2 separate regions of the Homo sapiens genome follow, and region 1 is linked to region 2. The links come from fine-mapping of genetic effects on gene expression. A gene starts in region 2. The other region holds a variant in brackets. All regions are shown on one strand. Distances are from middle to middle.

The links.
Region 1: its variant is fine-mapped to the expression of RNF103 in whole blood (TOPMed, PIP above 0.99).

The regions. Positions count from the first base shown.
Region 1 is chr2:86,390,515-86,405,618 of GRCh38, reverse strand. No RefSeq gene overlaps it. Among named protein-coding and RNA genes, the nearest start is that of KDM3A, 43 kb to the left of the region's middle. The variant T/A (reference allele first, on the strand shown) is at 7,949.
Region 2 is chr2:86,619,941-86,634,892 of GRCh38, reverse strand. RNF103 (ring finger protein 103) reads left to right here and starts at 11,028. Exons shown (of 4, transcript NM_005667.4): 1 at 11,028-12,232; 2 at 14,424-14,563. The coding sequence starts at 12,007. RNF103-CHMP3 (RNF103-CHMP3 readthrough) reads left to right here. Exons shown (of 8, transcript NM_001198954.1): 3 at 14,424-14,563. The coding sequence starts at 14,432. It overlaps LOC124907853 (a long non-coding RNA gene), which reads left to right and starts at 2,379. Exons shown (of 2, transcript XR_007087122.1): 1 at 2,379-3,031; 2 at 6,405-6,617. RefSeq lists enhancers at 1,558-2,081, 10,833-11,127 and silencers at 10,838-11,007, 11,088-11,627, 11,898-11,977, 12,158-12,207.

The DNA of each region.
Region 1 (15,104 bases), 230 kb after region 2:
TCCAGCTTTCTTGTGGTTGCTACTTGCATGCTATATATTTTCTTAATCTTTTACTTTCAATCTATTTGTATCTTTGAATCAAAATATTTCTCCTGTGGACAGCATATAGTTAGATCTTGCTTTCTTTAATCCAGTCTGATGATTTTTTCTTTTGATTGTATTGTCTAATTCATTCACGTTTAATGTTTTTATTTATATAGTTGGATTTATGCATGCCATTTGACTTTTTTGTTTTCTATGTGTCATATGTTTTTTGTTCCTCTATTCCTCCTTTACAGCTTTAATCATTTAAATATTCATTTGATGTATTATATATTCATTAAATACTCATTTAATGCCTCAAATGCATGTTTTTAATGCAGCCATATAATTACTTTAATGATTTTTACTATATATTTTGAGTTATTTCCTTAGTGGTTATTCTAGGGCTCATTATATGCAACAAAACTTCAGGGACAAATTTAGGTTTATGCTAACTTAATTCCAATGAGATATAGAAACATTATTCCTATATAGCTCTATTCCCTTTTCTCTTTTTTGTGGTATTATTATTATACATATTACATTTATAAATGTTACAAACCCAAAAATATATTGTTTTAATCATTATTATATATGTTTTCTTGTGTCTTACAGAAGCTGAGAGAAGAAATGACAATAAGGATTTATTTCATAGGTTTTGTTATATTAATCTTCTTACTGATCACTTCCAGTTCTTTTCATTTGTTTTTCTGGATTTGAGTTACTATCTGGAGTCATTTCTTTTTTACTTTATTTATTTATTTATTTATTTTGAGACAGGGTCTCACTCTGTCACTCAATTTGGAGTCCAATGGCATGATCTCAGCTCACTGCAATCTCCGCCCCCTGAGTTCAAGCGATTTTCCCATCTCAGCCTCCTGAGCATCTGGGATTACAGGCGCCCCATACCTGGCTAATTTTTGTATTTTTAGTAGAAATGGGGTCTCACCATGTTGGCCAGGCTTTTCTTGAACTCCTGACCTCAAGTGATCACTGCCTTATAAGCTGGAGTGAGGGAAATTGGGGTCCCAGTATTCTCAGTGGGTACTACTGCCCAAGGTAGTCTCCACCCCATGAGTGCAAGCTGAGAGGAAGACAGGAGCCCCCACCAGTCAGCCACACTTACTTGGGATATTTGGGATAGGTAACTGAAGGCCAGATGAGAAATACTGATGCCCTTTACCTCCAACTGGGAACTGGGGAGAGAAGGAGCCCTATGTTCTTTGCTAAACCAGTCTGGAGTGGAGTTTCCATCTCACTGAGTTGGGAAGGTGGAGGGAGGGAGCATGTCTGGGTTCAAATATAACAGACTCTTGCTTTTCATGTCAAATTTTATTATATTTTCATTCTTTCTTTCTTTCTTTTTTTTGAGATGGAGTCTTGCTCTGTTGCCCACCTAGGCTGGAGCGTAGTGGCGCGATCTCTGCTCACTGCAGCCTCCGCCTCCTGGGTTCAGGCAATTCTCCTGCCTCAGCCTCCCAAGTAGCTGGGATTACAGGCACGCACCACCACGCCTGTCTAATTTTTGTATTTTTAGTAGAGACAGGGTTTTATCATGTTGGCCAGGCTGGTCTTGAACTCCTGACCTCGTGATCTGCCTGCCTCAGCCTCCCGAGGTGCTGGGATTACAGGTGTGAGCCACTGCACCCGGCCTATATTTTCTTAAATAAATATTTCTTCATTTGCTATATGTCCTTGGGACCATTTCCAGATATTTTAAATGGTTTTTTTTTTAAAATAATTGTCACCAGTTTCACTGAGGAGTGGGTCCACAGTGCCCCTGACACTGTCATGCTAGCAATTTCTCTTCTTTGGCTATGGGCTACTCATGAATGGGGAATGGGAAGGGAAATGATGTCCGAAGTGAGACAGCTCCCATTTGGCTGAGGGCAATTCTCTGGAGAAAAAGTCAGCCATGAGCTGTTAGCGGCCAACTCCACAGCAGCTGGGGGATGGATGTCTTACTCACATAAAGGGATCTGGGTAGGCGACAACAGAGTTCCATTACATCACTCAGAGCTGGGTCTAAGGTGAGGTGATTAAGGCACCCACTCTCAGGGTCACACAAGTGCAGGCTTGATACCTGAGAGGGAGCACATCCTTAAATCGTCCCCCAGTTTCCTCACTTGCTTCACCCTGGCCCTGGCCCCAACACTGCTACTCATCCTTTCATTCCTCCACTAACCATGGCTGTGCCTTTCACCCCACCGATAGCTCCTCCTTGAGGCATAACCAATTCCTCAACCTCCTGTGCATAATATTACCCTGTAAATTCTTCCATTGCAATACATAGGGCATTATATCATTTTTGTGTATGTGTATCTTAGTTTTTCCCTCACATCTTGCTCACTCACTGGACATTGCTCCACAAAGCCAGGAATACAGTCTAATTTTTTCCAACATCTTTAATCCCAAAGCATACTAGGCATTCAATAAATGGTTAACCAAAAAAAAAAAAAAAATGAATAAATGAATAGATGTTGAAAGAATCTAACAAGTCACCCAGTTCCTACTTGACAGTAAATCTATGAAATGCATATTAGAGCTGGATCCCCTCTTCGAGGGCATCTAATCTAGTGCTTCTCAAACTTAAATACAATTTACAATTGTTTTAAACAGAAAAAAAAATTCACAAAATCCCTGAAACTCATTTTGTGGACCCCAAGGTCCTTGTCCCCCAGTTTGAGAAAAGCTCACATATTGTCTTTAGAAATGGTTTAAACGATTTTTGACATTATCATCAAATGAAAGCAGGAAATTAAAAATTGCTCTTGGAACTAGGCCTCCTGCATATACCCCTCAGATCTCACCCCAACCCCTCATTTTAACTAAGTTTGCTACAGCTGGGGACTTGGAGTCTGCATTTCAGTTCTTCCAATGTTTCACTTTGGAGATTGGCAAGTTACTTATCAGAGCCTGTTTCCTCATTCATAAAGGTGCAATAATAACATTGATGTCATGGGGTTGTCACAGCCATTAAATTAGAAAATCCAGGAAAATGCTCTGGAAACTGCCCTGGGCCATACACATTTGTAATTATTGCTCATGGGCAAAGCATGGCACAGAAAGCTTCAGACCTTTCCATTAGCACTTTTGCCAGGCATTGTGGAGATGGGATGGAACCCAGTACAAGAGAATAGGGGATCTTCTCTCCCTGTCTCACATTGCTGGCAAGTCAAGATTGCCTTGTTTGCTCAGCTAGGAAGGATGGAGGCTTCCCCAGGGTACTGTTCTCTACCCTGGGGTGTTGTTCTGTTTCATTCACTACCTTCTTTTTTTTTTTTTTACATAGTTTATTTTTATTTTTATTTTTGAGAAGGAATCTCACTCTGTCACCCAGAGTGGAGTGCAGTGGCATGATCTCGGCTCACCACAACCTCTGCCTCCCAGGTTCAAGCGATTCTCCTGCCTCAGCCTCCTGAGTGGTTGGGACCACAGGCATGGGCCACTATGCCCAGATAATTTTTGTATTTTTAGTAGAGATGGGGTTTCACCATGTTGGCCAGGCTGGTCTCGAACTCCTGACCTCAAGCGATCCACCTATCTCAGCCTCCCAAAGTGCTGGGATTACAGGTGTGAGCCTGTAACACTGTAACACACTAAAATGCACTAAGACAACTTTGTGATGATTAATGTTGGGTGTCAACTTGACTGGGCTAAGGGATGCCCAGATAGCTGGTAAAACAGAGAGCTGGTAAACAGATTAGCATTTGAATCACAGACTGAGTAAAGAAGATCCAACCTCACTCAATGTGAATGGGCATTAATCTATTCATTGAGGGCTCAGATAGAACAAAAAGGCAGAGGAAGAGGGCATTATCTCTCTCTTGAAGTGGAACATCCATTGCCCTTGGACATCAGAGCTCTTGGTTATCAGACCTTTGGACTTTGGGACTTATACCAACTGCCCCCTACTTCTTAGACCTTTGGACTTGGATTATATGTTACAACATTGTCTCCACTGTTCTCAGGCCTTTGGACTCAGACTGAATTACAACACTGGTTTTCCTGGTTCTCCACGATGCAAACAACAAATTGTGGGACTTCTTGGCCTCCATAATCATGTGAGCCAATTATTATAATAAATTTCCACATATATGTATACAGAGAGAGAGAGAGACAGAGACAGACAGAGGGAGAGAGAGAGAGAGAGAGAGAGAGAGAGAGACTGTGCCTGACTTATAATGGCTCGACTTTACAATTTCTTTACTTTACAGTGGTGCAAAGGCAATAGGCATTCAGTAGAAATTATACTTTGAGTACTCATACAACCATTTTCTGTTTTTCACATTCAGTATAGTATTCAATAAATTACATGAGATAGTCAACACTTTAGTATAAAATAAGCTTGTGTTAGATCATTTTGCCCAACTGTAGGCTAGAGTAAGTGTTCTGAGCGCGTGTGAGGTAGACTAGGCTAAGCTATTATGTTCAGGTAGGTCGTGTGTATTAAGTGCTTTTTTTTTTTTTTTTTTTTTTTTTTGAGACAAAATCTCACTCTCGCCCAGGGTGGAGTGCAGTGGTGCAATCTCAGCTCACTGCAACCTCCGCCTCCCGGGTTCAAGTGATTCTCCTGCCTCAGCCTCCTGAGCAGCTGGGATTATAGGCATGTGCCACCACACCCAGTTAGTTTCTGTTTTTAGTAGAGGTGGGATATCATTATGTTGACTGGGCTGGTCTCAGACTATTCACCTCAGGTGATCTGTCTGCCTTGGCTTCCCAAAGTTCTGGGATTACAGGCCTGAGACAACACACCTGGCCCCTTAAGTGCATTTTTTTTTTTTTTACTTATAATATGTTCAAATTATGCCAGGTTTATCAAGATGTGACCCCATTGTAAGTTGAGGAGCATCTATATATCCTATTAGTTCTGTTTCTCTGGAGAACCTTGACTAATGCAAGCCCAGAGCACCCACTGCAGGGTCAGCCTGGAGCTCCCCTCCTTGGGACTTGCTGGAAATTGCACCTTGCTTACCTGCTGTGCTTTTGTTGTGTTGGGGGTTTTCGAGTGGTCTGAGTTAACCAGCTTCTCCAAGAGTGATATTTCCCCTTCAGTTAGATTTGCATCAGACATGAGTCTTAGACACTGTCTAATGCTCAAGGAATTTATTCTGGCAGCACTTTTATAAGACAGGAGCAGGCTGGTGGCATGGGCTAGATACAGTCAGGGGATCAGATGACAAATGACAGAGAGGGTCTCCATCTGGAGACTGTTCTCAGAGTTTGGGGGATCCTTCCCCCTTTCTTATACCTGCATTCAGTCCAGGTCAATTACCTCAGTTACAAAGTGTTTCTTTCATAAATGGAGTTGAAGCTATTCTTGTAAGAGTAAGCTTTGTTTTATGATTTATGAAAGTTGCATCTATGCTGAGGTGGCCTTGTCTCCTGGAAATCCATGGACCAGAGTTGGAAATCTCCAGGTCAGGTTGTAGCATACTACCAAGTGACCAGTAGTACCAGCCCTGCAAGATGCATGAGTGGGCCTTATGGCTGCCATTAATCTTATAGCCATGATATGCCTCTTCCAGTGTACTACACCTTTCCCCGTCCTGCTGCCCCCCACACCCTCAGAGATGTCTTCTGGAATAAGTCGACTGCACAAGACTGCTTCTGAGGAATCTCTCCTAAATGAGGGAAGCCCAACCTTCTTAGTCCCTTTGGGCTGCTGTAATGAAGAGTAATATACTGGGTGGCTTATAAATAACAGAAATTTATTTCTCACAGTTTTCTTAAATTATCTGAATCAAATTTAACAGTTCTGGAGGCCGGAAATCAGAGAACAGGTGCTGGCATGGTTGGGTTCGGGTGAGGGTTTCCTCCAGTGACAGACAGCTGACTTCTTACATCCTCACGAGGGAGAGTGTATTAACTCTCTGACCTTTTCTTATAAGGGCACAAATCCCATTCATGAGGGTTCCACCTTCATGACCTTATCACCTCCTAAAGGCACAAACTGCTAATATCATCACACTGGGATTAGAGCTTCAACATAAGAATTTGTGGGGTGGGGGGACACACACTTTCAGTCCATTGCACCAACCTAGCAGAGACTTTCCAGTTTGGCTTCAGGGACTCCTTCTCAGGCTCCTCTTCACATTTGACACCATGGGCCACTCTCCTTCCAAAGCTCTTTAATGCGACACGGCATTCTCCAGTGTCTGCATTCTCTCTGATGCTCCTTCTCTGCTTCTTTCTCTGGCTCCAAGTACTTCCTCCAGTCACTAAGGGAGTGTTCCTCAAAGTTCCTTTGTCTTCTCTTCTCTCTCTACACTTTTTGACTTGCTGATCTTACTCGCCATCATGGCTCAGCCAGTATCTGTTTTCTCTCCTGAGCTTCAATCTCGCATTACCAACAAATCTCCCATATTACCAACAAATCCTGGTAGCTCGTCTTCACCGTGTCTGGAATGGACTCTTCCTCCAACCTGCTTCCCCTCCCTGTCTCCTAGTTCTGTGAGTTGCTCCTCCACCCCACTTCAGTGTCATCTCAGGCTCCTCCCTCTACTTTGTTCCCCTTCCCAAGCAGTTGCCAAGGCCTCTTGATCTTGTCTCTGCAATTCTTGACTCATTCACTCTCTCCCCATTTCACCACCACCTCAGTAAGTTGAGTCCATATGTAAGTCCAAGACCATCCATGCCTTCTATTTAGTCTTGCATAATTTCTGGTCCTATCCCAAGATATTACAAATGTTGGGACAGATCCTGGGATCCCAAATTTCTTTTTCTGAAAGCATCACTAATGGATTCCATGGCTGTTACATCTGTTTATATCTAGTAGATTCATGTTATCGTGTTCATGTCAGAAGATATTAATACTGGAAATTATAGGCATTAGTGGTCAAAAAAGAAAGAAGCCCTAGACATTTGTGGAATAGAGAGGAGAGATGACTTAAATTCTTTGTACCACAAGCTATGACTTAATAAGTCTCTTAACAAAGGTTACTATAAAGTAAATGAGAAAATACTCATCTCATGGGCATGCATTGAGCTGTAAAACCACAGTAATTTGCTGAAAATAACTGGATCAATATACCTTTTTTATGAAACTTTGACTAAAGTGGTTCATTTATATTATCAAAAAGCAAATAGCTTGTTCCAACTGGGTAAAAGTTATATAAATATATCACCGACACCATCAAAATAGAATTCAAAAAATACCGACTTACTATTTCACTGACTTAATTTCCTCCACTGCAAAATTTAGCATGCATCTGTGTCGTAGGTAATTATTTATCTCATCTGCTCATAATAGCAACATCCTTCTTCCGGGAAACTGCCCCCTAGCCACATGAGTCTGCCATTTGTGATACTCTGTGTTCTGGCCACCAGTGAATGCAGGTGACACAAGTGGAGTATTAACTCCCAAGGGCTTGGTTTGGGCCGGGAATTGACACATGACCTAAGCCTGGCCAATCAGAGTTTTCTTGTTAGATTTTTATCATTCAAACTTGGAAAGGAGAGCTGTGGTTGCACACGGTGTGGATGTAATGCTGGGACTGCCCACGGCCACATCCCTTATCTTATGGAGAAGCCAGTCTAAGAAAACAAAGCTAGCAAGGAGATAAGAACAGAGCCCCAAGGACAGTATGAGAGTCCTGGCGGTTTAAGCCCTGGATCCAGCTGAACCTACTCTTTCTATAGTCTTTCTCCCTGAGCCAATACATTTTACCCTTGTGCCTAAGCTAATTTAAAGAGTTTTGACCAGCAAATCCTTGTAGGCAGAAGATATATTTTCTATCAATCTGTGCCTCTTGGCATCTAGAGCAAGTGAGGGTTTTAGGAAGACCTGCTGATTGATTAAAGACTAATTTATTAGACAATTATCCGAATCAAATTTAACTGAGTCATTTCTTTTCTCCAAGACAGGCATGCAAGTGTGCACGAGCATATGCACATCACATACTCACATACACACACAGACTAAGTT[T/A]GGTGGCCAGGCATGGTGGCTCATGCCTATAATCCCAGCACTTTGGGAGGCCAAGGTGGGAGGATCGCTTGAGCTCAGGAGTTTGAGATCAGCCTGGCCAACATAGCAAAACCCTGTCTCTACCAAAAAATACAAAAATTAGCTGGGCATGGTGGTGTGCACCTGTGATCCCAGCTACTTGATAGGCTGAGGTGTGAGAATCACTTGAGCCCAGGAGGAGATCTTGAGATCACGCCACTGCACTCCAGCCTGGGAGACAGAGTGAGACCTCATCTCAAACAAACAAACAAACAAACAAACAAAAATAGACTAACTTTAGCATTCCCCATTTAGCAGACCTGGAGAGTGTGCATGTGTGACCGAGTGTACGTGCACACACACACACAGTCATCCAACTCACACAATACTCTTTTCTAGGAATACAGAAAAGCTTCACAGGTCATACTGGCAAAACCAAGTTGTTTTTTCTTTCTTTTTTTTTTTTTTTTTTTTTTTTTTGAGATGGAGTCTCGCTCTGTTGCCCAGGCTGGAGTGCAGTGGCGCAATCTCGGCTCACTGCAAGCTCTGCCTCCCGGGCTCACACCATTCTCTTGCCTCAGCCTCCCGAGTAGCTGGGACTACAGGTGCCCACCACCACGCCCAGCTAATTTTTTGTATTTTCTAGTAGAGACGGGGTTTCACCGTGTTAGCCAGGATGGTCTGGATCTCCTGACCTCATGATCCACCCGCCTTGGCCTCCCAAAGTGCTGGGATTACAGGCATGAGCCACCACGCCCGACCAAAACCAAGTTTTTTAGGGAATGTTTTCACATTATGTATAAGATGGGGAAGAAAAAGAGTATTATACAGCTTTCATTTTGTTTCAGGGACTGTGCTTTGTGTTGTAATATATTTCCTCTCATTTTCTTACCACAAAATTCTATCAGGTGCACATTATTATCCCCATTTGACAGATGAGGGAGCTGGAGACATGAAGCTCAAGGCCACACAGCTGCTATCTCTATCTGGAATTCAGCATGGACCCTGGCTTGTGGACTATGCTGCCTCCCTGTGGACTATGCACTGCTCCAGAGGCAAAATGGAGACCACAACAATCCATTTCTTGAAACACAGCCTAAGTTTCTAGAATCAAGATAGGTGCATAGCTAAAGTATTTGTCTATGCAAATAGAAACGGGCACAACGGAAAGACCAGGGTCATGAAGGGAAAGTCAGCGAAGGGCGAAGGGGGTGGGGGGCAGAGAGCCAGGAGGTTTGCTGAGGCATTAACCGAGTCCCACGGCTGGCACTGGCTCTAGACTATGAGCTCACCCATACACAATGATCATGGAGCCTGTGCCACCTGATCCAGGGCTTGGCACAGGGTAACTTCTCAGTGTTTCTGACTGAACTGGGGGAGATTTATTGAATAGCATGGGAAGGAGTAGCAGTCCTCAAAATACTGCCTCCAGTGTTTTGTCCACGAAGATGAAGAAAATAACCAGATCTTGCAGCAGCACTGAAAACTACGACCAACAGGCAATCAATAGACAGATAAATTGGGATCTGATTATGAGGCAGATATAACCATTTTGAGGAAAGCACCCAAGCTACAGCTCCTGGTACGAACCCCAGCTTTGCCTTCTGAGTGCTGGATGTAAGTAAGCAAGCTTGATTCTTCCATCTAGGTTTTGTCCTTGGGCTCAGACACACAAAACATAGGAAGAACAAAAGCTGGCATTTAATCCACCCTCTAAATCCCTTGGATATTTATTTATGCACTTTGTGCATTTTTTGTACACTTCCCTTCTCTTTTATACCCTCCATTCTCACATCCCATATTTCTGGAGATAGAGGCTACCAATTCCAGGGAATGGGGCAGTAAGTGAGTCTTGTGTATGTGTATGTTGAGTGGGGGTTGGGGGAAGTGAGTGTGTGTATAGTACATCTTGGGAAGTTAGTTCTAGGAGTAAAGAATTATCGGGCCAGGTGTGGTGGCTCATGCCTGTAATCCCAGCACTTTGGGAGGCCGAGGCGGGCAGATCCCCTGAGATCAGGAGCTCGAGACCAGCACGGCCAACGTGGTGAAACCTAGTCTCTTCTAAAAATACAAAAATTAGCCAGGTGTGGTGGCAGGCACCTGTAATCCCAGCTACTCAGGAGGCTGAGGCAGGAGAATCGCTTGAACTCAGGAGGCAGAGGTTGCAGTGAGCCAAAACTGTGTGGGAGAGACCCAAAGGACCTTGCAGTAGTTCATCCAAGATATTCCATTCATTTAGGGAAACAGAGGAATGCAGACAGGGAGTATGAGAAAGCTGCCATATGGGTAGTGCAACGCTTCCCTGGGAAACAGGCAGGGAAATCAACCTACTCCAAGCTGTAGATTTGAGAAGAGAAACCAAGCACTGTGGAGATGACGACCCACAGCCACCCACCCCCAAATAGTCTGTGTGATCACACCTTGCCTTGTTTGATGCGGAGTGAAGAGAACTGGATTTATAACAACATTTAAAGTGACATTTAAATAATTTAAAACAATATTGGATTTACAACAAAATAATGATTTTTTTTTAACATAGTCTTGCTCTGTCACCCAGGCTGGAGTGCAGTGGCATGATCTCAGCTCACTGCAACCTCCACCTCCTGGATTCAAGCAATTCTCCTGCCTCAGCCTCCCGAGTAGCTGGGATTACAGGTGCGTGCCACCATGCCTGGCTAATTTTTGTGTTTTTAGTAGAGATGGGGTTTCACCATGTTGACCAGGTTGGTCTCGAACTCCTGACCTCGTGATCCACCCGCCTCAGCCTCCCAAAGTCCTGGGATTACAGGCGTGAGCCACCGTGCCCGGCCCTAGCTATCTTTCTTTTATCAATTTCTGATTTAATTCTATTGTAGTCTGAGAGCAGATATTGTGTAGTTTCTGTTGTTTTAAACTTGCTAAGATAGGTGCATGGCCCATAATGTGGTCTGCCATGGTGAATAGAATATATTTTTTACTTTTTAGTATGTGGAAAAACAGTATAATGAACTATATTTTCATCACTAGGCTTCAACTGTTATCAACACATGGCCAATCTTATTTCATCACTGGTTTCTCTCTTCCTGGCTAATTTAAAGCAAATTTTAGAAATTATATCATTTTATCAATAATTGCTTCAGTATATATTATAATGTGGGCATCACCATTGAGAATGTGGTCCTTAGGAATTCAACAAAATCATCCTGTACCAAGACCCACTGATATCCTTGCCTTTACCTACCCTACTCTATGCCCTATACCTTGGCCCAGGCTAGATGAATCTAATTTGTCTCTGTGCACTGAAAGGACTCTGCAGGTGGCTGATATAAATATGCCTTTGGGAAGCTACTTCGGGTGGCCAAGGGGACAGTATTGCAGTTGGCAGTCTGACTCCAGCTGTCACCACTTGTGAGCCATGTAGCCTCAGACAAGGCATTTAACCTCTAGAGCTGTATCAAGGTTTTTCTCTTCTGATTAAATGGAGAACATAAAACCTACTTCACCAAATTGTTATGAAGCTTAACTAAATAAAAGTGAAAGTCAGGTTAGTCATTATTATCACAGTTTATGCAGCAACACAATCATGTCAGGGAAGTCTTTAGTGTAGGGATTTCTTTTGCATACAGGAAGCCCTGTGCCAACTTTAGAGAGTCCAGAAAACCCCATGAAACCACAAGACCTAGGCACCAATTCCCAGAACAAGGCTGAATTTAGTCCCTGATAGAGTCTGAATCCTGACTATGGCAAGCTAGGCAACTCAAACTGTCCATTGTGAACTGGGCATTATCTAATCCACTGAGTCATAAAATTGGAATGTGCAGCAGTACTCAGTATAAAATGGAAATGGTGTTTACAAGATAAGGCCCAAGCAGGTATAAAAGGCTCAAGAATATTGCATAAGCAGGTGGCTCACCCTCCCACATTTTTTGCTTCTACTACTTTACCACCTCTCTCAGCCCACACCAGTGGCCTCAAGGGGAGTTGCCTAGGACTAGCTGACAGAAGAAGAAAAAGCACAGGCTTGGTTTGCAGTGGGTCTGCATGATAGGGCTGCAAGTGAACAGCTGCTGTTTTACAGCTCCCCTGAAGAGTGAGTCTGAAAGGCAAGGGTGAAAGGAAATCCTCTTAATAGGCAGAATTTTAAGCAGTACATCTGTTGTCCACTTACTGTAGAAGGCGAGATGCCCTGGAGTATGCAACTATACCAATTTATGATCAAGGATTAATGGATTAGAAGAGTGGTCACTGACTTCTGAGGAGCAAGATTGGAAGACTAGTGACAAGGAAGTCTTCAGGAAGTATGTGAATTAACTCTTCAAAACAGGCACTAAAAATGTACATATTTGTAACCACTATGAATGCTCACCAAAGGGCATCTACTGAAGAGGCAGCTCTCTGTGGTCTAGTGGAGTGCACAAAACAACCCATGTGTGGCTGAAAGTGATTTCCTTTCCCTAAACATTTTGATGCTTACTCAATGGGCCCATAAACAAAATGTCCACGGTGGCAGGGGTAGATTTTACATGAGCTCACCAAGCTGGATTCCTCTCGCCAAGATTAATCTAGCTAACGTCACTGCTGGGTGCCCAATGTTCTAACAGCAGAGATAACACTGGGGCCTCATTATGACACCTATCCTTGGGCTGCCAGCCAGCCCCAATGTCTTAGGTTGATTATACTGGACATTTTCCATTGCGGAGGAGACAGCAATTTGTCTTTATGGGAATAGATACTTATTCAAGATACGAGTTTGTCTTCTATGCCCACCATAGAAGTCCTTCTGCCAGCACCATTTGTGGGCTTAAATAATGCCTTACTCAACATCTGCAACTCACACAAAATTGCCTTTATTAAGGAGATCATTTTATGGTGAAGGGCATTCTATAGACGTGAGCTCATTACTTGTATCTATAGAATTCACTGTTTTTGCCATGTGCTACACATCACCCCAAATCAGCTGGCTTGATTAAACAGTGGAATGGCCTGTGGAGGGCTCAGTTACAGTGACAGCTGGGAGGCTAGGGTGCTGCCCCATAGCATGCAGTATATGCCATACACCAGTGGCCAAAACATGGTTATGGTCAAACTCTTTCCTAAAATTTTCCTCTGGATCTTTCAGAGGCTTTGCCTTCCTTTTAATTCTTCCTAATGCTATTTTCTCTTAAAAAATTCATCATTGGCTGGGTGTGGTGGCTCATGCCTGTAATCCCAGCACTTTGAGAGGCCAAGGTGGGTGGATCACCTGAGGTCAGGAGTTCCAAATTTCATATGGAACCAAAAAAGAGCCCATATAGCCAAGACAATCCTAAGCAAAAAGAACAAAGCTGGAGGCATCATGCTGCCTGACTTCAAACTATACTACAAGGCTACAGTAAGCAAAACAGCATGGTACTGATACTGAAACAGATATATAGACCAACGGAACAAGACAGAGGCCTCAGAAATCATGCCACACATCTACAACCATCTGATCTTTGAGGAACCTGACAAAAACAAGCAATGGGGAAAGGATTCCCTATTTAATAAATGGTGTTGGGAAAACTGGCTAGCCATATGAGAAAACTGAAACTGGACCCCTTCCTTACACCTTATAAAAACAGTAACTCAAGATGGATTAAAGACTTAAACCTAAGACCTAACACCATAAAAACTATAGAAGAAAACCTAGGCAATACCATTCAGGACATAGGCATGGGCAAGGACTTCATGAATAAAACACCAAAAGCAACGGCAACAAAAGCCAAAATTGACAAATGGGATCTAATTAAACTAAAGAGCTTCTGCACAGCAAAAGTAACTATCATCAGAATGAACAGGCAATCTACAGAATGGGAGAAAAAATTTGCAATCTATCCATCTGACAAAGGGCTAATATCCAGAATCTATAAGGCACTTAAGCAAATTCACAAGAAAATAACAACCTCATCAAAAGGTGGGCGAAGGATATGAACAGACATGTCTCAAAAGAAGACATTTATGTAGCCAACAAACGTATGAAAAAAAGCTCATCATCACTGGTCATTAGACAAATGCAAATCAAAACCACAATGAGATACCATCTCACGCCAGTTAGAATGGCGATCATTAAAAAGTCAGGAAACAACAGATGCTGGAAAGGATGTGGAGAAACAGGAACGCTTTTACATTGTTGGTGGGAGTGTAAATTAGTTCAACCATTGTGGAAGACAGTGTGGCGATTCCTCAAGGATCTAGAGCCAGAAATACCATTTGACCCAGCAATCCCATTACTGCATATATACCCAAAAGATTATAAATCATTCTACTATAAAGACACATGCACACGTATGTTTATTGTAGCACTGTTCACAATAGCAAAGACTTGGAACCAACCCAAAGGCCCATCAATGATAGACTGGATAAAGAAAATATGTCACATATACACCATGGAATACTATGCAGCCATAAAAAGGATGAGTTTATGTCCTTTGCAGGGACATGGATGAAGCTGGAAACCATCATTCTCAGCAAACTAACACAGAAACAGAAAACCAAACACTGCATCTTCTCACTCATAAGTGGGAGTCGAACAATGAGAACACATGGACACAGGGAGAGGAATATCACACACCAGGGCCTGTTTGGGGGTGAGGGGTTAGGGGAAGGATAGCATTAGGAGAAATACCTAATGTAGATGATGGGTTTATGGTGCAGCAAACCACCATGGCACATGTATACCTATGTAACAAACCTGCACGTTCTGCACATGTATCCCAGAACTTAAAGTATAATAAATTTTAAAAAAAGCAAAACTAAAGAGGTGGCTAACACAGTCATGTGGTTTGTTTAAAAAAGAAAAGAAAAGAAAAGAAAGATAGCTGGAAAATAGCCAAATACTTGGAGATTAAACAATACACTTTTAAAGAAAACATAGGCCAAAGAAGAAATCTCAATAGAGATTTAAAGATATTTTTAACTAAATAAAAATAAAAATACAACTTATCAAAATTTGTGGTATATAGTGAAAGCAATACTAAGAGGAAAATGTATAGCATTGAATTTATATATTAGAAAAGAAGAAAGATGTAAAATCAATCATCTAAGCTTCCACTTTTGGAAACTGCAACAAAAAGAGAAAATTAAATGTAAAGTAACAGAAAAGATAAATAAAAATTAAAGCAGAAATCAATGAAATTCAAAA
Region 2 (14,952 bases):
TTCCAATTTTCTTCATCTTTCCTTAGAAGACCTAATTTTCATACTAAAATTATATTTATCAAGCTTTTTAAGACTTTATTTTTGCCATGTGCTTAATTAAATTGAGCTTACTTTCAGAATTACTCTACCATAATGACTTTAATTTTTGAAAAATCCTTTTCTAGTCTCTCTGTAACTTAACAGACTTCCATTTGCACTACATTTCATTTAAAATATACATTAGCCAGATTGACACTTAAAACATGTTCACCCTGTGTTCTTTTGTCTAAAAATAGACTTATTAAGTGTCTTCTGTGTACTCTGGTACTGTCCCTATGTGTCATAGCAGAGATGCATTCCTATCAGTGTATGTGGGCACGTGTGTGTGTGTGTGTGTGTGTGTGTGTGTGTGTTTGCATGTATAAAACATATGCCTTGGACGGGCGCGGTGGCTTACGCTATAATCCCAGCACTTTGGGAGGCCGAGGCAGGCAGATCACAAGGTCAGGAGTTTGAGACCAGCCTGACCAACATGGTGAAACCCCATCTCTACTAAAAATAGAAAAATTAGCTGGGCATGGTGGGGCACGTCTGTAGTCCCAGCTACTCAGGAGGCTGAGGTAGGAGAATAGCTTGAACTCGGGAGGCGGAGGTTGTAGTGAGTTGAGATCACGCCACTGCACTCCAGCCTGGGTGACAAAGCGAGACTCCATCTCAAAAACAAAAACAAACAAACAAACATGTGCCAGGCTCTGGGCTAAATGGCTTCTAAGCTTTACTTCATTTGGTCCTCACAACACTTTTATGAGATCATCATTATTGTTTCCATTTTACAGATCAGGGTTAGAGAGGGGAGCTCTAACATGCTAGAGATTAGCCTGAAAGCACAGGAGCTAGGCCATGCAGATGGCATGCAGGAAGGAAAGAGGGTAGTATAGAAATAAGACTATGTACAAGGCAGCATATGAGAAATGCTACAAATACGTTTCTGAACACACATTTTCTGGACCTTCACTGATTTCAATAATTTGGTTGCAGAGGACGGATTTCATGGGTATGGGAACAGTGCAGCTGCACATGGCCCCAGGTTCAGAAGAGCCCTGCATGCTTGGAGTTTAATGCTCTGCAGTTGCTTGATATTCTTAATAATTTAATCTTTGAATTTGTGTCTTGAATTCTTAATAATTTAATCTTTGAATTTGTGTTTTGCAAGTGAAGTCCAATGGACATTGAAGCACGTGCCATTAGCTTACATGCGGTTCTGCCTGCTGCCAGCTCCCCACCTCCCTGAGAATAGGTCCTTGGCAGCCTGTTCTCCATTGCCTGGTTCCTGGGACCCTGCCCAGCCACCCCCTCTCCACATCTGCTCTCCCCACTGTGGCCCCTGCCTGCCTTTAACTGGGATGGCAACTATGTTGTGTCTGGCAGAGGTGGGGGTTGGGGGGTAACATTCTGCTGTCATCCTCTGCTTTCAATAGGGACCTGGAGTTGCACCCGGGGAGACTTGAGGCTGGGCATCCAGGGTCTCTTTGCAGCAGGGCCTGGCAGCACCACAACTGTTAGGGGGCAACTCGCCTCTGCCCCACCCCCAATCCAGGCACTGAGCTTGTCCTGGCACTGAGGTTTCAATCCCTTCAGGGCCAACCATCTGCTGCAGGTTGGCCCGGCACCAAGCATTGGCCTGTGGCTGGAGGGAGGGGGACCCCGGAGCCTGTGAGGACTCACACTTGCCCTGGGAGTATCCCCTGCCCAAAGGCGAACTATATTAAAGAGCAAATTTTAAAAGCACATCATGACCGACAGGTCAAGATAGATGGTGAAAGAAAGGAAAAGCTTTGTATTTCAGCACTTTTAATGGCACTTTTTCTTCCTAGCCTTTTGAACAAGGGCCTGCATTTTCATTTTGTACTAGGCTGGAAAATTATGTAGCCAGTCCTGCTGTCTCATGGTTAGCTTCAGGCAATCAGAGGAGGGAATGGTTTACTCCAGGAGGAATGGTGACTTCTTATTTGCTTATTCCACCCTTCTTTACCTTTGCCTTCAAAATGTTTATTCAGGGAGTCCTACTGCCTGCTGTTACTGGTGTTGGCAGAAGATAGCACTGGTGACTGTTTTCTGCAGAGGAAGCTGCCAACCGTTGATATAATTTCTTCTTTTCTTTTTTCTTTTTTCTTTTTTTTTTTGAGACAGAGTTTTGTTCTGTTGCCCAGGCTAGAGTGCAGTGGCACGATCTTGGGTCACTGCAACCTCTGCCTCCCGGGTTCAAGCGATTCTTGTGCCTCAGCCTCCCTAATAACTGGGATTACTACTGGCATGCACCACCATGCCTGGCTAATTTTTTTATTTTTGGTAGAGAAGGGGTTTCACCATGTTGGCCAGGCTGGTCTCAAACTCCTGACCTCAAGTGATCCGCCCACCTTGACCTCCCAAAGTGCTGGGATCATAGGCGTGAGCCACCGTGCCCAGCCCTGATATAATTTTTTGACTGTGCATGGGAAAAGGTGGTGGAAAAAAGGGAAATGAGAAATCAGGAATTTGAGATTATTAAACTGTGTGACTAACCATCACCTCCCATAACTGCAGTCCTGTAATGTTCTGTTTTGACGCTGTGTATTCCTCATTTTGGCAACCTCATCTTCAAGGAAATCACTCAAAAAGCTGACTGGCAGGCTGGCTGGCCAGAGTAGAAGAGCTGTTTATTATCGGGATGGCAATGTACAAAGCGAGCTGCCCCAGGGTGCATTCCTTTCAGCTTTATTGAAAGCCAGTTTCTACAGGTATCTCTCTGGTGAAAAGGCAGTCCTTCTTTTGAAGACACCAGCTCGAGTGCCAGATAGAGCTCGGAATAAAGCACTTGGCATTGCTCATTCCTGCAGATAATGGCCTTAATGCATTGGGAAAAGCAGCTTGGGACCAATGCTGTGGTGAGTCAGTCAACAGGGTCATCTCCACACAGGAAGGACAGGAAAGAGGCTCACAATCGCAGCAGGGGCTGGGCCTGGAGAAGGTATTCTGTGGCAAGTTGGATTTTCTCACAGCACCGATACAGTAGGTAGGTGCGTGCTGACGGCTTAATCTTAACTCTCCTTTTTTATTGACCATAAATGCCATATTTAAATCAACTATAAATGATACAATTACATACTGCCCAGTGGTAAGCTTTCAAAATGTAAATCAGTCTGGGAATACAGAAATCGATTATAAGTATTTTCAATGATCTTTGTTTAACTGTTTAGGGGACTCCCCGGAAGTGGGCTTGTGTAAGTGTGGGAAATGTGGGAGGAAAGGGCTAGAAAAGGGAAGAGGAGCTTGGGCTGAGAGGGAAGAATCCAGGGGGACTGTAGGTGGCAGGGTGTGTGTGTGTGCACCTCCTGGCTTCACCTTGTAACAGTTGTGGAACTGGCAAAGAGCCCCCAGGGCGAACTGCTGAAGGGTGAACTTTCCTAGGTCAAGGGAAACCCATATCATACTGTTTATTATTAGTCGCTAATGAAATTAATATTTATGTCCCCAAATGAAATATCGAATATGTCTACATGCTGGAGACAGACTTTTTTTTTTTCTTTTTGAGACGGAGTCTCGCTCTGTTGCCCAGGCTGGACCGCAGTGGCATGATCTTGGCTCACTGCAAGCTCCACCTCCTGGGTTCACGCCATTCTCCTGCCTCAGCCTCCAGAGTAGCTGGGACTACAGGCACCCACCACCACGCTCAGCTAATTTTTTTGTATTTTTAGTAGAGATGGGGTTTCACCATGTTAGCCAGGATGGTCTCGATCTCCTGACCTTGTGATCCGCCCGCCTCAGCCTCCCAAAGTACTGGGATTACAGGCATGAGCCACCATGCCCGGCCAGGAGACAGACTTAAAGTCACTTGCTTACCTGCCTAAAATCTGTGCCTAGCTGTGTTTATCAGCCAGATCTAAGATAATAAACCGACCCATCCCATCTATCTAAGTAAGATGCAGATTTCTAGCCTTTTTTTTTTTTTTACCATTTCTAGCCATTTTTACACTTTTTTTAAACCAAAATGTGTTCTTAATAATGCAGTTAGGGAGCGAAGTAAAGACAATAGAGTCTTTTCCTTTGCCTCTGTCTGCCACTCTCCTTGCCCCAACAGAAAGCAAGGTAGTGAAGGATTATTTTTCCTATGCTCCCAATTCTCAGGTTCCTGGGAGCCCGGGCCTTACTCCCCTGGTACTCTGGAATTGACTGCGTCTTGGATGCAGACGGCTCTATAGCAAATATATATGTATGTATGTATGTGTACATGTGTGTGAGGGAGCGATATGTATATCTCAGCTAAAGATGAGAACAAATCCCAGGGGCCCCAGGGCCCAACTCTTTCATCCCTAGTTTAAAGGGCCTGCTATAGAGCAAAGGTCTCAGGGCTGTGCTCTGGGCCCACCCCACTCCCTGGCCACACAGTCTGGAAAGGGCTAGAGGCTGTTTTTTAGGGTCAGGTCTGAAAGGGGTGGGCATCACTCCCACTAATTACAATTCAGTCACTTACCCAACCTAACTGCAAGAAAGGCCATAAGGTATGGTCCGTTTAGACTCCTGGGAAGACACAATGACATGCTGGATCCGTGGCATGACCTCTGCCACACTAACCAGTTAGTGCCACAGAACCCAGGAAAAGTCAGAAATGGGAAGCACAGCGCTTTAGAAGCCCAGGGTGGAGGGTGAGGCACAAAACCGAGGATTTGCCCAAAGTCTCATAAAGTACAGTTGGGCCCTGTGCAGCCAGGCACTTGCCCCTCTCCTAGCCCAGTGGAAGGTGGGAGGTTTATCCTCTGAAGTGAATGGATTGGCTCTCCTAGCTCAGAGCTAAGCAAGGGAGAAGAGATGAGACACCCTACTGAAAACCATGGGATTAGGCACAAGCCTAACGGCTAAGACTTGATAACCCCAGCTCCTTTTCCCACTCAGTCCCAGAATGCTGGCAGCCATACTTGAACTCTCTAGGCAGGATTCCTCTCTTAAGAAAGAGAACAGCGTGGAGAAAGGACTTATAGATAGATCCTCCCAGTGAAATGGGTAGGGCTCTTCTCTTTCACCTACAGTGAGCCCCATTCACTCTCAAAGAATTTCTAATGAGCTTTTCAGTGCCTCAAGTTTATGGACCTGTGAATACAGACCCAAGAATTACTGAGCAATTAAAGGGAGCCTCTAATGTGAAAGGCAAAGTCAAAAGCAAACAAATAGAAAATGAATCCAGAGGCACTGCAAAGGGCAAAAGAAACCTCAGGGGGGACCACTATACTTAATATCTTCAGAAAGATAGGAGAATAAACATATTGCATACATAAAAAGAATAGGATGCCACAGAAAAGGCACATCCCAGTAACAAGAAAGAGCTTTTGAAAATGAAAAAGGAGTATAGACAAAATTAGAAATTTAGGCAGTTATGGTGGCTCACGCTTGTGATGCCAGTACTTTGGAAGGCTGAGATGGGAGGATCCCTTGTGGCCAAGGGTTCGAGACCAGCCTAGGCAGCATAGAAAGACTCCATCTCAACAAGAGAAAAATTTTAAAATTGGCTGGGCACAATGGTGCATGCCTATGGTCCCACCTACTTCGGAGGATGAGCCAGGAGGATCACTTGAACCCGGGAGTTCAAGGCTGCAGTGAGCTATGATTGCACCACTGCACTGAAGCCTGGGTGGCAGAGCAAAACCCTGTCTCTAAAAAAAAAGAATTTAGTAGAAGGAGCAAAAGATAAAGGCGAAGACATCTCTTAGAAAGTGAAATGAATGGCAAAGAAAGAAAAACTGGAGAAAAAAGAGAATACAATTATAGGATCAATTTAGGAGTTCCAACATCTTGCTAATGAAAATGGACAGAGGAAATTATCAAAGAAATTCCCAGAACTGAACGTCATGAGTTGCTATATTGAAAAGTACTCAACATAATGAAGGGAAGGAAACTTGGATTAAGGTATATCATAAAAGTTCAGAACACCAAAGATGAAAGGAAGTTCAAAAAACATACAGATAGAACAAACAAGTCACTTTTAAAGGGCAGGAGTCAGAACGATGCTAGCCTTCCAACAGCAACAATAGAAGCCAAAGGCTAATAGATCAGTGCTTTCAAACTTCTGAGGGAAAATGATGTCCAGCTTAGAATTCTATATTTGGCCAAACTATCATCCAACATGAGGATAACTGCAACTAACTCTCAAACGGTTCACAAAAAAAAAAAAAGTATGCGCTTATAATCTAGAGAAAAGATGTAATTCAACAAATAGGGCAAAAGGTTAACAATTGGTGAATTGGTAAGGACACTTTTTGTAATATTCTTGCAAGTTAAGTCTTCTCCAAGTTTGATAAAAAAAAAAACCCATACAACTAATGGGGGTAAAATAAAGGAATTTTTAGACATGTAGGGCATCCAAAGTTTATCTCCGTGCCCACTTTCTTACTAAGCCACTGTAGACGTGGAGGTGTTCATGCAAACAAGAAAATGAAAGAACTAAAGTGCAACCATGGGATCAAGAAAACAGAGAATCCAGCACAAAAGAGAAGAGACGGGAAGTCCTGAGACAACAGCTGTGGGTGGCTCTGGACAGGAGCCAGGCTGACCTGGAGTGGGAGGACTGAGGACAGAAGGTTTATTTCCAATAAAATATGAAACTAATAGATTAGCTGTTTGAGTAATCTTAGAGTTCAGAGAGTTTGGGGATGAATAAGTGGCTGGGGCCATAGAAAATAGAACAAACCAAAATTTGAGTTAATTATTAACTCCAGAGGCAATGAACAATTGCACAAGAAAGGTTTCTTACATGGTTCAGCTATGAACAAGATTTATATGGGCATATTAATATAAAGATGAATATATAATATAATCATGTTGGGAATGAGGGGAGGGAAATGGTGTATGAATACAGGGCATAAAAGACAGAATTCCTCATCGTCCATAGTAAGAAATCAATAGATAATGTATAAAATGGAAAAAGCAAGAAAAGCAGTAAAAACCTATTCTTTGAAAATATAGAGGTAAACATGAAAAAATTGCTAAAATAATTGAAGGCAGTGTCTCTGAGGAATGGGAATCAGAGATGGTAGGGAAAAGCAGGGGATGTGGTCTTTTGTTTTGTTTTGTTTTGTTGAGACAGGGTCTCACTCTCTCACCCAGGCTGCAGTACCGTGGCGGGATCACATCTCACTGCAGCAGCCTCAAACTCCTGGGCTCAAGCAATCCTTCCGCCTCAGCCTCCTGAGTAGCTGGAACTACAGGAGGGTGCCCACCATGCCCAGTTTATTTTTATTTTTTGTATTTTTTTGTAGAGACAGGGTCTCACTATGCTGCCCAGGATGGTCTGGAACTCCTGGGCTCAAGTGATCCTCCTGCCTTGGCTTCCCAAAATGCTACAATTACAGGTGAGCCACCTCTTCTGGCCAATGTGTTTTTTTATAAGCAGGGTTTGTCAGGGACATTCTCAGTTTTTCCTCCCTAGTCTGGTATAATTTCATTACCATTGCCCCTTTTACTCCCAAAGTTGTCCCAGTTTTGTATGTAGCCCTGAAATGCTACTTCATTTTTTAAACTATGTGTGCATGATATTTTGATAACAGTGAAATAAAAAGAGAAGGCTCTTTGGACCTTAAATAAAATAACTCTGGTTCATCAAGCTCAGTCAAAGACTTTAATTTTCTTTTTTCCAAAAACCGATTCTTGGTTTTTTTTTTTTCAATTTTTACCCTCTGTACATTAGAATGTATCCAAAAACTAATTCTTCATTTTAAATTAATTACAAGCAATGTGTACTTCAAAGCACTTTTACAATCACTCACTCATTTAATCCTTACGACAGCTTCATAGGGTAAGCATCCTATCCCATTTTATAGATAATAAAAATGAGGGGCCGGGCGCAGTGGCTCATGCCTGTAATCCCAGCACTTTGGGAGGCTAAGGCAGGCAGGTCACAAGGTCAGGAGATTGAGACCATCCTGGCCAACACGGTGAAACCCCATCTCTACTAAAATACAAAAAATTAGCCCGGCGTGGTGGCACGTGCCTGTAGTCCCAGCTACCTGGGAGGCTGAGGCAGGGGAATTGCTTGAACCCAGGAGGCGGAGGTTGCAGTGAACTGAGATCGTGCTACTGAACTCCAGCCTGACAACAGAGGAAAACTCCCAAAAAAAAAAAAAAAAAAAAAAAAAGAGGTTAGGGAGGTCTTCTGATTGTCTACCAAGGTGACACTAGTCCACTGGACCAGGCCCTTTAATTGCAGTTTGCACACTCTTGCCACAATATCAAATGATAAAGCATTTAAGCCATCCTACATATGAACAGAATCTGAGATATAAAACCAATAACCCAGATTAATAGCCTATTAGAAAAACAGATTATGAAAATGAATAATTCATACATTCTTCTGTTTTTGAAAATAAATTCTAATTAGTCTGCCCAGCTAGGCTTAGTGGAAACTGAAATCAATCTCATGGGAAGACAGCCCACACCTCCAACCCCTGTCATCTTTGGAGTCCCAGAGGATGAACCGCTGCCGCTAAACCTCCGGACCAGGAAAACAGTCCTAGTGGGTTTTTTTGTTTTGTTTTGTTGTTGTTGTTTTTTTTTTAGATTACAAAGTAATACATGATTATTTCAGAAAATATAATAAAACAGAGATATAGCATAAAAGAAAAAATATTCTAAATCCCATCACTTAGAGGTGAATACACCTAACAATTTAGTGGATACATCTCTGTCTTTTTGTAATACAGATACAAAAATAGGATCATATGACGCAAACTTCTCAGTCACCTGGTTTTTTTCACCAAACACTATATTTTGGACATGGTTCCATGTCCATAACCGTGTGTCTACATTTTTCTTTTTAGTGGCTGCCTCATGGTTCATCATTTGAATTACTGTATTTGATCAATCCTCTGTCACTAGATATTTGGGTTCTTCCTTTTTTCTTTCCAGCATTAACTCTGCAACAACGACGAAATTCTATACACACATCTTTGTGCCCATGTCCAATTATTCCTCAAGATAAATTTCCTGAAGAGAGATTACTGTGCCAAAGAGCTTGTATTTTATGGGGGGCTTCTAACCCACATTGTATACCCCACCAACATAGAATGTGCTTGTCCATACTCTCTTATTCAGATGACCCAATGTGTTCTCTTATCAATGCTTTTATCCCTCCTGTGGGTTAACCATGAATGAAACAAAGCAAGGGGGTTGGGATGGGAGGCAGTTGAAACAAACAAGAAATTTAAAAAGAGTTCTTTAATTCCTTCTTTCTAGTCCCTCCCACACTCTAATGTTTTTTTCCAATTTGGAACTCTGGCCTGACTGGTTCCACCCTCAGCTCACACACCAACTTTCCCTGCCCATGCCTATTCTGTATTTTTGAGATTGGGTCAGTCTCTCCTCACTAGCGAGTACATACATTCCTTTGAGGTGAGGGACATCACCTTCAGTGTCAAGGTTTGGACAATATCATCAAAGGGTCACCAAGACATGCCCAAGAATTCTGAAATTTCAGAACCAGGCTTGTTAGAATCAGTTGTTTAACACAGTCTCCCACACTGATCTGCCAGCCACGAGAACAAAGCCACATGGAAGCTAAAGACACAGGGGCAGTGTCCAGTTGCTGGCTGGACATTCCTACACCTCCTCCTCTGATTCTCAATGCTCCCTGGGCCCATCCCCTTCCAACTCCTCCCCCACTAGCCCGGCACTGAAATGCCCTTGTTCACTTTATTTTAAATGGGCACCATTCGGAGGCTACATTCTCACAGTCCATTCTTTGCTTCCCGTTCCTCCCTTGCTCCATGACCTGGGATCATGATCCCTTTCTTCCTAAAACTTTCACCCCTAGTTTCAGATAGTTGACAGTTTTGCACAAATAGTAACATTTCCCCGTAATTACTGTTTTTTTTTTCCTTCCTTATCAAAAGGGGCTGGTCAAAGCCAACCTTGTTCAGTTTATGAACCCAACTCCTTCCTCCCTCAAGACTGACACAGAGATTGACGTAAAGAGTACGCTCGGCCCGGTTAAATTTATAAGCACAGAACCAGGTATCGCATGCTTGTCCATGTGACTCTTTTTTTTCTTTTCTTTCTTTCTTTTTTTTTTTTTTTTTTTTTTTTTTTTTTTGAGACGGAGTCTTGCTATGTCACCCAGGCTGGATGGAGTGCAGTGGCGCGATCTCAGCTCCCTACAAGCTCCGCCTCCCGGGTTCACGCCATTCTCCTGCCTTAGCCTCCCGAGTAGCTGGGACTACAGGGGCCCACCACCACGCCGGCCTAATTTTTTGTATTTTTAATAGAGGCAGGGTTTCACCGTGTTAACCAGGATGGTCTCGAACTCCTGACCTCGTGATCTGCCCGCCTCGGCCTCCCAAAGTGCTGGGATTACAGGCGTGAGCCACTGTGCCAGGCCCATGTACAAAATAAAGCACCCGGAACTTTGCACCTGGACTTATCTACACTCGACAATCTTTGTCCTAGGAACTCAGGGAGTCCACACCAGGCTTTTAACACCCTTGAGACTGAAGGAGGGAAAAGGCTGTAACTGGCAGCGACAACTGGGCCTAGTATAACGCGAACTCCAGTTTTGGCCAAACCTCCTCCAACACACATGTGCAAAGCCACATTCTCATGAAGAGGGGGCAAAACATTTGCTTTCTGGGTTTAACCTTCTACCATCTCAAACCAACTGTGCCAAAAATTTCCCTGTTCACCAGGATTCATCAAAAAACGTACATTTCTATTTTCACCGATTTTAAGAGAATAATTAACTGCTCTATTTTTACAAAAAATACACAAAGTGATACAATCTAAAGACTAATCCTCAGACAAAATCAATTGCTAAACATTGGAGGGGCAAAAGGGGAGACCACGCCGCAAAAGCACGGAGAGGCAACTTTCGGCACCGCGGGAAGGCCCCGACCACGCTGCGGCTCCGCCTCTCCTCCCGCCCCTCGTTCGGTAGTCCGGTAGCCCCGCGGCTCCCCGAATTCCCCGCCCTCGGCCCCTGCGGGCGCACCCTGCAGGCCCCGCCCCGGCCCCGCCTCATCGCGACGTCAGTTGTTATGTCTCGGCTCCGGCCGCGGCCGCCGCTGATACACGGTTGTGGAGGGTACGGCCGCGGTCTCCGGAGGTGGCGGGGGTGTTGGGGACGGGTGCTGCGACCGGCACTGCCCATCCGAGCGGGACGGGCGCTGAGTGGCCGGGAGGCAGCCGGGTAGCCGCCTGGAGGAGCAGTCTCGGGGCCTATTATTGGTTTTTTCCCTCCGAGACCGATTCCATCTGCAGAGACCGCGACGCCCCATCCTGGGCCGGGCCGCAGTGCCCGCCCGCCTGAGAGGCGCCGCCCGCCAGCCGGCCCGAGCGAACCTGGAGCCGCCGCCGTGCCCGCCGCTCTTCTCGCGGAGCCTGGGCGGTCGGCGGGGCCTGGGGCCTGGGCTTCGGGCGCGGCGTTGCGGCGGCCGCTCCTCCCCGCGCAGAACACGCTGGGCCCCGGGCCTGGCCCGGCCGAGCGCCGCGCCCTCCTGACCCGCGGCCGCGGGAGTCCGGCCCCCACGGCCCCTCGGGCCCCGGCCTGCCGCCCGGATCCCCGCCTCCTGGGCGGATCTGAGTTATTTTTTGGTCTCCCCCTCCCCCTTGAGATCGCGGCACCGGAGGGCCGACCCCGCCACCTGGGTCAGTGCCCGCCCCGGGGGAAGCGTCCCTCGTTTTGTTCTTCCCCGCGAGCTCTCCCCGCGCCCCTCTCCTTTCTGTGCTTAATGGATGGGGGTTTTGAGTTTTTCCCCTTTATTTTTGTCGGCTCTTGACTGGGAGGCCCGGCGCGAGGCTCTGCGTCTCTGCGTCCCTCGTCGCCGCCTCGCGCCCGCGCGGATCCCGTCACCTGCTTCCCCGCCGGGGATGGCCGGCCAGTGACGGCGCCGGGTGGCCCGCGCGTGGACACGGGGCCCTCGCCCAAGCTGCCACCGAGCCGCGGCCCCCGCCCTCGACCCTTCTCTCTCCCGTATTCCGAGCTCTCTGGAAAGAGAGGAAACTCCAGGGAAGATGTGGCTGAAGCTTTTTTTCTTGCTCCTCTATTTCCTGGTCCTGTTCGTCCTGGCCAGGTTTTTTGAGGCCATTGTGTGGTATGAAACTGGCATCTTTGCCACCCAGCTGGTGGATCCGGTGGCGCTGAGCTTCAAGAAGCTGAAGACCATTTTGGAGTGCCGGGGGTTGGGCTACTCAGGGTTGCCCGAGAAGAAGGATGTCCGGGAGCTGGTGGAAAAGTCAGGCGAGTATCGGGCTTCCCCTAGGGTCCCCTCCACCTGGGAGAGGGGACGACCTGTACCTCCTGGTACCTGGCTGTTCCCCCAGAGTGAGGCCTTTCCTGGAAGCGTTAAAGCTGCCCAGGTTTCTTCGTCCAAGCTTCCTACAATCAAGTATGCGGATCCCAGCTTTGAGGAGGAGTCTGAAATTATTTGGAGGAGTGTTGGTGTATCCTTTTAAGGTTATCGTAAAATGACAGTTTAAAGTGTGGCTTCTTAGCGTTGTTTACTAAGTTGAGTGATTTTCTCAAAATTCTGGAATATCAACTAGTTACAAACTGGAAAGCATTATTTGTCAGTTGAAGTTCATAAAAACGTAAGAAAAACTCCAAAACGTTGTCTGTCAATAGCAATATTTGTCACGATAGTAATAATAAGATACCCAGAGTGGGGACACATCTTTGGAATACTTACTATCAGAGGCACTTGGGCCTAGGATTTAAATGTTAAATCATGAGTTTGAATATAGACAGTATACACCGTACAGTATTAGCTTTTCAGACTTTAAGTTTGGTGAAAATAAGGCGAGCATTTTGTATAAATGCCTGCCATGTTCGAGTTTATATTATATTTCTGTTAGGATTTTTAAAAATTTGCATCTTGGATGTGTAAAAGAAAAATTTTTTTTGTCTTCTGTGTCACAGGTACCCTTGCATTGTTTAATGGGTTGAGAAATATACGTGAAATAGTGCTGAGAGAATATTCAATGTCTTAAAGAATGTGTTTTTAGTAATTGTTGGTTTTGGTAGGATTGGGTGAGAAATATGGTTAATTTTTTTCACTGCTGCACAAAGTATATCTTTGGATATACTTCCTGAAAGTGGAATGTAATTTGAGAAAGGCTTTCTGCGTTGCTGTGGGAAGCAGCTGAAACTGATGGTTATCTTTTTTGTTGTTTCAAGTATTTTTGTCAGCTGTATCTTTTACAAGACAAATCTTTTCCTTCTTTAGTACCTTATAGACATGTAGCGTGATAGACAAGAGTATGAGCTCGCTAGCAGTTTAACACTTGGATATTTGTAGGTTGCGGGTTATAAAACTCATATCTCACTATTAGGGTAGAGGAGAGGAACACACTCTGCAGAAGTGATAAATGTTTCTTTAGAGAAAATATAAAATCGTATATTATTCTTGCCCCTTGTTTGCTGACTGGTTTATGGCGATTCTTATTTCTACCATAGGGGGAAGAAGTGGAGTAACTAGGGTAAAAGATCTCTAATAAATAAACTCTCTTGGTTTAGAGATGAGAAGTGTCTCAACTGCCAAAGCCATCATTTTTTTATGGAAAATAATTTGGTCACACATTTTTTTTTCTTTTGACTGTTATTTATTATTGCCTTCTTTTGGGCCTAAAAATACTTGGCACATTGAATGTACTAGAAGTCCACATTTAACTTTAAGACGCACAGCCCAGTATGACTCAAATCACACGTTTTATGGCAGAAAAGTCATGGTATAGCAGTTTAAAATTTAAGTGTTTATTGTGAATGGTTTTGCTGCTATCATGGTGCAGTACTTGGTTTCTCACTGTTTAATATTTAAGGCGAAAGTTAAAATAATTTGATTTTAGTGTTTTCCTTTCCTTTTTGTTTAATGATACAAGCTCTAAATTTATAATATAAATTTGTATATGAATATGGAGTTTGTTCTGTCTAACAGGTAAAGTTCTAACCTCCAAGTCATACAAACCCTGTTGCTCTTTTAAGCAGGGCTGATGGCAAATTCTGTGAACCCAATTCTACATCTTTTAAGTAAGAAGCATATAAGCCATACTGTTTAAAAATGTATATGAAGCCTGTATGTGTCATTCATAAAACTAAATAATTAAGAAAGTTGTGCCTTTTTGGAGTGGTACAAATTTGGTAAGTTCCTAATAATTATGTGATAACCCCACTAAAATATAAGCCCTGTTCTATAAGAGATGGATTTTTGTCTATTTTGTTCACTTTTCCCTGATGCATAGGAAGTTCTTACTACATATTTATTGAATGTATGACTCCTAAGTGGGTATATCCAGGTTCTTCTAGTAGTTCTTGTCTATAAAATACAATGAAAGTACAATATCATGATTCTTAACAGTGTAAAAAATAGAATTACTGAAATTGGGAATCTAGGATTCTTGCAACCTTATTAGTGTTATTCTTTTCCTTTCTTCAGGTGACTTGATGGAGGGTGAGCTCTATTCTGCTCTCAAGGAAGAAGAAGCATCCGAATCGGTTTCTAGTACCAATTTCAGTGGTGAAATGCACTTCTATGAGCTTGTGGAAGACACAAAAGATGGCATCTGGCTGGTTCAGGTATGAAAAGCAGTAATAATTTGATAATTCGAGAGCCCTAAAAAAATTATTTTTACCAAAATAGTATGTACCAGCCAGTGACACTTCCGTGTCCTTGTGTCTTGTTTCTCACACATAACTCAGTTCTCTTAGGGAGGCTCCAGTATCTTCTTAAAAAGGTTTTGGAGACTGAGGAAGATGAAAATTGAGTAGTGGGAAAGAGAAAGATGGGGGATGGGGGTCAACTTTTTGTTTAGAATCCCCAGAAGCAAATCTATTTTAGTTATTGGACCTTTGTTGAATTGAGAAATACACATATATATCCCTTTTATTTAGTGATTTGCACTGTTTCTCTTAGTTTTTATTATCTCCAGTTTTTAATTCAGTGGCCTGAGTAATTTTTATATATA